Regions from separate parts of the Homo sapiens genome. Here region 2 is linked to region 1. A link means that fine-mapping ties the variant in region 1 to the expression of a gene that starts in the linked region. Tissue or cell type: whole blood. Region 1 holds a variant in brackets; the other region holds the start of a gene. All regions are shown on one strand. Distances are between the middles of the regions.

The links. PIP is the estimated chance that this variant, and not a neighbour inherited with it, causes the effect.
Region 2: CYP4V2 starts here. The variant in region 1 is fine-mapped to the expression of CYP4V2 in whole blood (INTERVAL, PIP above 0.99).

What each region holds. Positions count from the first base shown.
Region 1 is chr4:186,239,245-186,242,009 of GRCh38, reverse strand. All of the region lies in intron 6 of KLKB1 (kallikrein B1), which reads right to left. It overlaps LOC124900873 (a long non-coding RNA gene), which reads right to left. Exons shown (of 2, transcript XR_007058497.1): 2 at 1,516-2,765. Among named protein-coding and RNA genes, the nearest start is that of KLKB1, 13 kb to the right of the region's middle. RefSeq lists an enhancer at 300-905. The variant C/A (reference allele first, on the strand shown) is at 1,116.
Region 2 is chr4:186,190,309-186,193,073 of GRCh38, reverse strand. It overlaps CYP4V2 (cytochrome P450 family 4 subfamily V member 2), which reads right to left and starts at 1,507. Exons shown (of 11, transcript NM_207352.4): 1 at 1,037-1,507. The coding sequence starts at 1,250. FLJ38576 (a long non-coding RNA gene) reads left to right here and starts at 1,584. Exons shown (of 1, transcript NR_046264.1): 1 at 1,584-2,765. RefSeq lists a silencer at 1,181-1,710.

The DNA.
Region 1 (2,765 bases):
TTCTTGCTCACACAAAGCCTGTTTAGTGGTCTCTTCACACGGACGCACATGACATTAAATATATGCAATACTTCAGCCCAATGTCCTAACCTGTTAAAATTGTTTTTACTTTGCTTTTCCTATCTAATATGTTGGGCACTATTTATAGATATTTTGGCCAAGCAACCAGTTGATTTCTAGGACATTCTCTATTTCAAGTATGCCATCTGGTTAGCCTCCGAACAGAAACCATGATGTTGCTTCCCCTAATTGCAATTTTATCAACCAGCTTCGTTTATCAGACTTTCTTCCCCAGAGGTGATAAAAATAAAAAAACCTTTTTTTTCCAATTTATGTTTTCCTCCTTTTGGCTTGAAAATATGTGTACCATCTCAATTGATAAATTAATAAGTCACATGGTAGGAATTTTCCATGTCAGAGTTGCAAATGGTTTTGTTAAATTAACTGAGGAAACGTGGTTAGCCTGACATCTCTCAAGATCTATGCAGGAAGATGGACCACAAGAGAAGGAAATCTGTAAATATAATGAATTCATATGTGTTGAGAGGCAGGAGGCTTTAAAACACCATTAAATCCATTAAAAAAACAAAAGGTGGAGTGAGCACTGTGAAATGTGTGTGACCCAAGGGTCGAGTTCTGGTTCAGCTCATCAGCTGTGTTGCCCCCGGAGCACCTTCACTTCTACCCTCCTTCCAGGAGCCTTAGGGGTTTTGTTTGTAAAATTAGGAAAATCCTTGGTGAAACCAAGGACAAATCTGTAGTGATAACTACAGATCATCCCTAACTTATGAATCTCATTTGGGCAGTTAGGCCAGGAGACAGCCCTACTCTAGGTTTAGGAGGCATGTGGCTACTGGGTGTTCCCTGAGGAACGGGGACCACGTACTCAGTGAAAAGCCACGCCCTTAGCAGCTCAAAACACCACCTGAAACAGCCATATTTTTATCAGTCTGTAAAGGCCATTTGATCCGATTAAATCACATGTGAACTCACTGCAATTTAACAAGAAAGCAAGTACACAGATGAGCCATCCAGGGTGCTCTCCCAGGTGTGGACAGCAGCTGTGACAGCCCAGAGCCACAGCACGAGCTTGCCTGTTCCCTGGGTAAGTGCAG[C/A]AAATCCTTCCAGCAACAGGGCTGGGTACAGAATGGAGCATGTTTGCATCGAGTCCTGCCTCCTGGCAGCCTTCAAAAACTCTCCCAGAAAAAAATAATATGAACGTTAAAATTAAATCACCAGTACACGTGAACCTGGCACACACCATGGAGAAGGTGTGCTGTCGCAAAGAGGAGACAGGAAAATAGCCACCTTGTAACCAACCTTCCCAATCTTCCACAGGGAAATCCTAGCCCAGCACCCAATACAGGGCCAGGCACAGAGCCAGCACCCAGTACTGCGGAAAACTGGCCGTAAGGGATTTGCTTTTAGTAACATCTTGTCATTAACATCCTGACATGCTAAATGAGGTGGAATGTCATGGCAATTTTCTGGATAATTCCATTGAAATTACCTTTATGTGTGAAACGACAGAGTTTTATTTCCCTACCCCTGGTAGAGTCATTTCACTAGATAGGGACACAACCAAGGAATGACCTTACAGTTTTGCTACAACATCACTGTACCTATAACTATAACAATATCACTGTCCTATAACTATTACAACGTCACTGTACCTATAACTGTAACAATATCACTGTCCTATAACTATATCACTGTCCTATAACTATAACAATATCACTGTACCTATATCACTGTAACTACATCACTGTCCTATAACTATAACAATATCACTGTCCTATAACTATAACAATATCACTGTACCTTTAACTATAACTATACCACGGTAACTATAAGAATATCACTGTCCTATAACTATAACAGTATCACTGTCCTATATCACTGTACCTATAACTCTAACAGTATCACTGTACTAGTTTCCTATAACTATAACAATATCACTGTCCTACAACTATAACAGTATCACTGTACTAGTTTCCTATAACTATAACAATATCACTGTCCTATATCACTGTACCTATAACTCTAACAGTATCACTGTACTAGTTTCCTATAACTATAACAATATCACTGTACCTATAACTATAACAGTATCACCGTACTAGTTTCCTATAACTATAACAATATCACTGTCCTATATCACTGTCCTATAACTATAACAGTATCACTGTACTAGTTTCCTATAACTATAACAATATCACTGTCCTATATCACTGTACCTATAACTCTAACAGTATCACTGTACTAGTTTCCTATAACTATAACAATATCACTGTCCTATAACTATAACAGTATCACTGTACTAGTTTCCTATAACTATAACAGTATCACTGTCCTATATCACTGTACCTATAACTCTAACAGTATCACTGTACTAGTTTCCTATAACTATAACAGTATCACTGTCCTATGTCACTGTACCTATAACTCTAACAGTATCACTGTACTAGTTTCCTATAACAGTATCACTGTCCTATATCACTGTACCTATAACAGTATCACTGTACTAGTTTCCTATAACTATAACAATATCACTGTACCTATAACTCTAACAGTATCACTGTACTAGTTTCCTATAACTATAACAATATCACTGTCCTATATCACTGTACCTATAACTCTAACAGTATCACTGTACTAGTTTCCTATAACTATAACAATATCACTGTCCTATATCACTGTCCTATAACTATAACAGTATCACTGTACTAGTTTTCTATAACTATAACAGTATCACTGTCCTATAT
Region 2 (2,765 bases), 49 kb after region 1:
AAGAGTTCGCTTGATTTTTTTCTGTCAAAGTATTTTTAATATTTTGGTAAACACTCTTCCATGAGGCCTCATCTTGTGAAGTTGAAATTACAGCATTATTTTTATTAGAGAAAACAAGTGAAAATGAGAAAAAGTCCTTCAAGCTTTGGAGTTAGTTAATGCTCAGCCTGTAAAACGATTACTAACAAATAATCCCAGAGGAAACTGGGTTCTGGTCTGGGCCAATTTTAAAATATGCCATTTTGGGCAAATCTTCTCATTTCTGGGTACCTCAACGTAATCCCTGATGAAAATAAAACTCTGAGATCGAGTTCGCCCTCCCTGACAGGGAGTTGTAAATACCAGGTACTTTTGAGAGCTTTCTAACTTAACGTGATTTTTTTCCATCAATAAAATGTCCATCTCTGTTTTAAAACATGATTTTAATTAAAAAATTCACTCTTTAATAAACAAGGCGTTTGACACCCTCCAAAGAAGTCTGCCTGAAGGCCCTGCCGTCTCTTAATTGTTATTATGTAACATCCTTTAAAGGGCTAAAGTATGAAGGTCAAGCGGGAACTGAAGCAGCAGTCAAGTCTTGTGATGCCGGGAGGAAGCGTCCAGTGAATCTCTAGTCTCTTATTTTCCAAAGTGGCAGCGAGAGGAGGGCGGCTCTGGGCGTTAAGGTGTTGGCCAGTTTAAAACCGCTCTGTGCTCCCAGGGAGCTTCTGTTCCTAAGGCTTCCCAAGCCAAGGCAGGAGGAAACGGCAGGGCTTTGAGAGCTGAGCAGCGGTGAGGTGGGAAAAGACCGAGGGCAGGGGTTTGGAAATACCGCATCCTGTGCTACACACAAAGAAAATGCTCACTTTGGGATGGGGCACTAGCAGTGTCGGCGGGTGCCAAGGGGCAACGACTAGAACTGGGAGTGCATTCTCCACAGGGTGACAGGCTCCTCTCTCCTGCGGCCAGCGCCACAAGCAGCGGGTTCCTGGCTGATCGGAGGGTGGGAACGGGGCTGCGGACCCCGTTGCGCTCCAGGAGGAGCGCCGGCCCTTACCTCGCCCGTCCGGCTTCATCAGCAGCGCGTGGCCCACCAGTGGGTAGGCGCGGGCCACCGTGGGGATGGGCCGCATCTGCTGCCATTTCCGCGCGTAGCTCGCCACCCTCTGCAGCAGGCTCAGGACCAGACTGGCGCCGGCCAGGGAAAGGGCACTCGCCGCGCCCCACAGCAGCAGCTTCTGCCACACGAGCCCCAGCCAGAGCCCCGCCATCGCCCCGGCTGGCGGCCGCGGGGTGCACTCCGGGAAAGTGCGGGCCCGCGGGGGCGTGGTGCGAGGCGGTGCCGGCCGCACACCGCCCACTTCCCCGCGCGGACCTGGCGCGCTCCCCGCTGCGGGGTCGCCCGGTCCCCGGAACGACGTTTCCCGCCCGGGCGGCGGCCAGAGAGGGCGCCACGGGGCTGTTCCTGCGCCCGGCCCGGCCTACGCAGCACCGCGGCCTCCACGCCCCAGCCGAAAGCGAAAGACCGGAAAACGGTTTCCGGGCCCCAGGGCGTAGTGATTGCACTGGAGGCCCGGAGGCTGCGCCGGGAGGAGGCCGGCGACACTTCCGGCCGCCTCCGGATGCGGGGTCAGGGGCGTCGGAAAGGTCACCGCGGCAGCCCGGCGCGCCCCAGCGGGGCTGTTCTGAGGGTGCTGCGAGGTTGCTCTACGTGCGGGATTCCGCGGGCGGGCAGCCTGCTCTGGAGAGGAAAGGAAGGCGCATCCGGCTCGGAGCCCAGCTCTGCTGCGCATCGCTCGCTCCCTGCGCAACTTGCAGCCCCGGGAGGCGGGGCGCGTCCTGGCTCCCGCGGGGTCACATGGAGCAGCGGGCGCTGTAATCCAGGGAGGCTTTGGGGACACGTTAGGGAAGTCAGCTACCCGTGTGTGTCCGCTGGCCCACTGGGACACTGGGAGCTCAATGAGGTGGTTATGAGCCAGGTATTTTCCAAAATACGCACCAGGCACCAGACCGAGGAAGCCGGAGCCCCGGAGAGCACGCAGGGGCGGGTGGGAGAGGAAGGCGGGCGAGGCTGCTCAGCGGGTGCCGGGAGACCGCAGCCGCGGGGTACTCGCAGAAGAGCCAAGACCTGCCACCCAGCCCGGGAAGGGAGGGAAGGGCCGCGAGAGGGTGCCCCATTTCAGCCTGGGGAGACGCGTGTGCTGGCCGCCAGTCTCTCTTCCCGGCAGAGGGCCCCAGTGCTGACCCCAGCCCCTTTTCCACGCTCGATGCTTCTTACAAAGTGGCCGGGCGAGGAGTGTCGCTCCCCGAGAGGCCAGGCCCTTCCTAAACACTAAAGTGCCAGGAAGATGAAACTGAATGTCCTGGATGCCCGCTTTGCTTAATTACTAATTACGTTCGTTCACTCGAAGCCACTGCATAAGTTGGCCACAGCCACCTGCAGGGCCTCTTTAGTGCAGAGAAAAACATGCCTAAGGCTTTTCTCCATTTGAATTTGTTTTAAGTCATCTGCATGGGCTGACGTGAAATAGCAAGTGAACAAAACAAGTTGCAGAACGGAGTGTGTAAAGTAATGCCTTCTTTTGGAGAAAAGGTTTCTTTCTCTACGGCTCCACTAATGTCTGCAAGTAAAAATACTGATCAGCTCTATGGAGTGGGAATGAAGATGGGGAACTTACGCTTTTTATTTCATTCACGTCTACATTGTTTAATCACTTTAACACTTTAAAAAATAAATATGTTCACTTAGTATCTTTAAGCAAGTCTCATGGGCTTTAGTTTCCTCC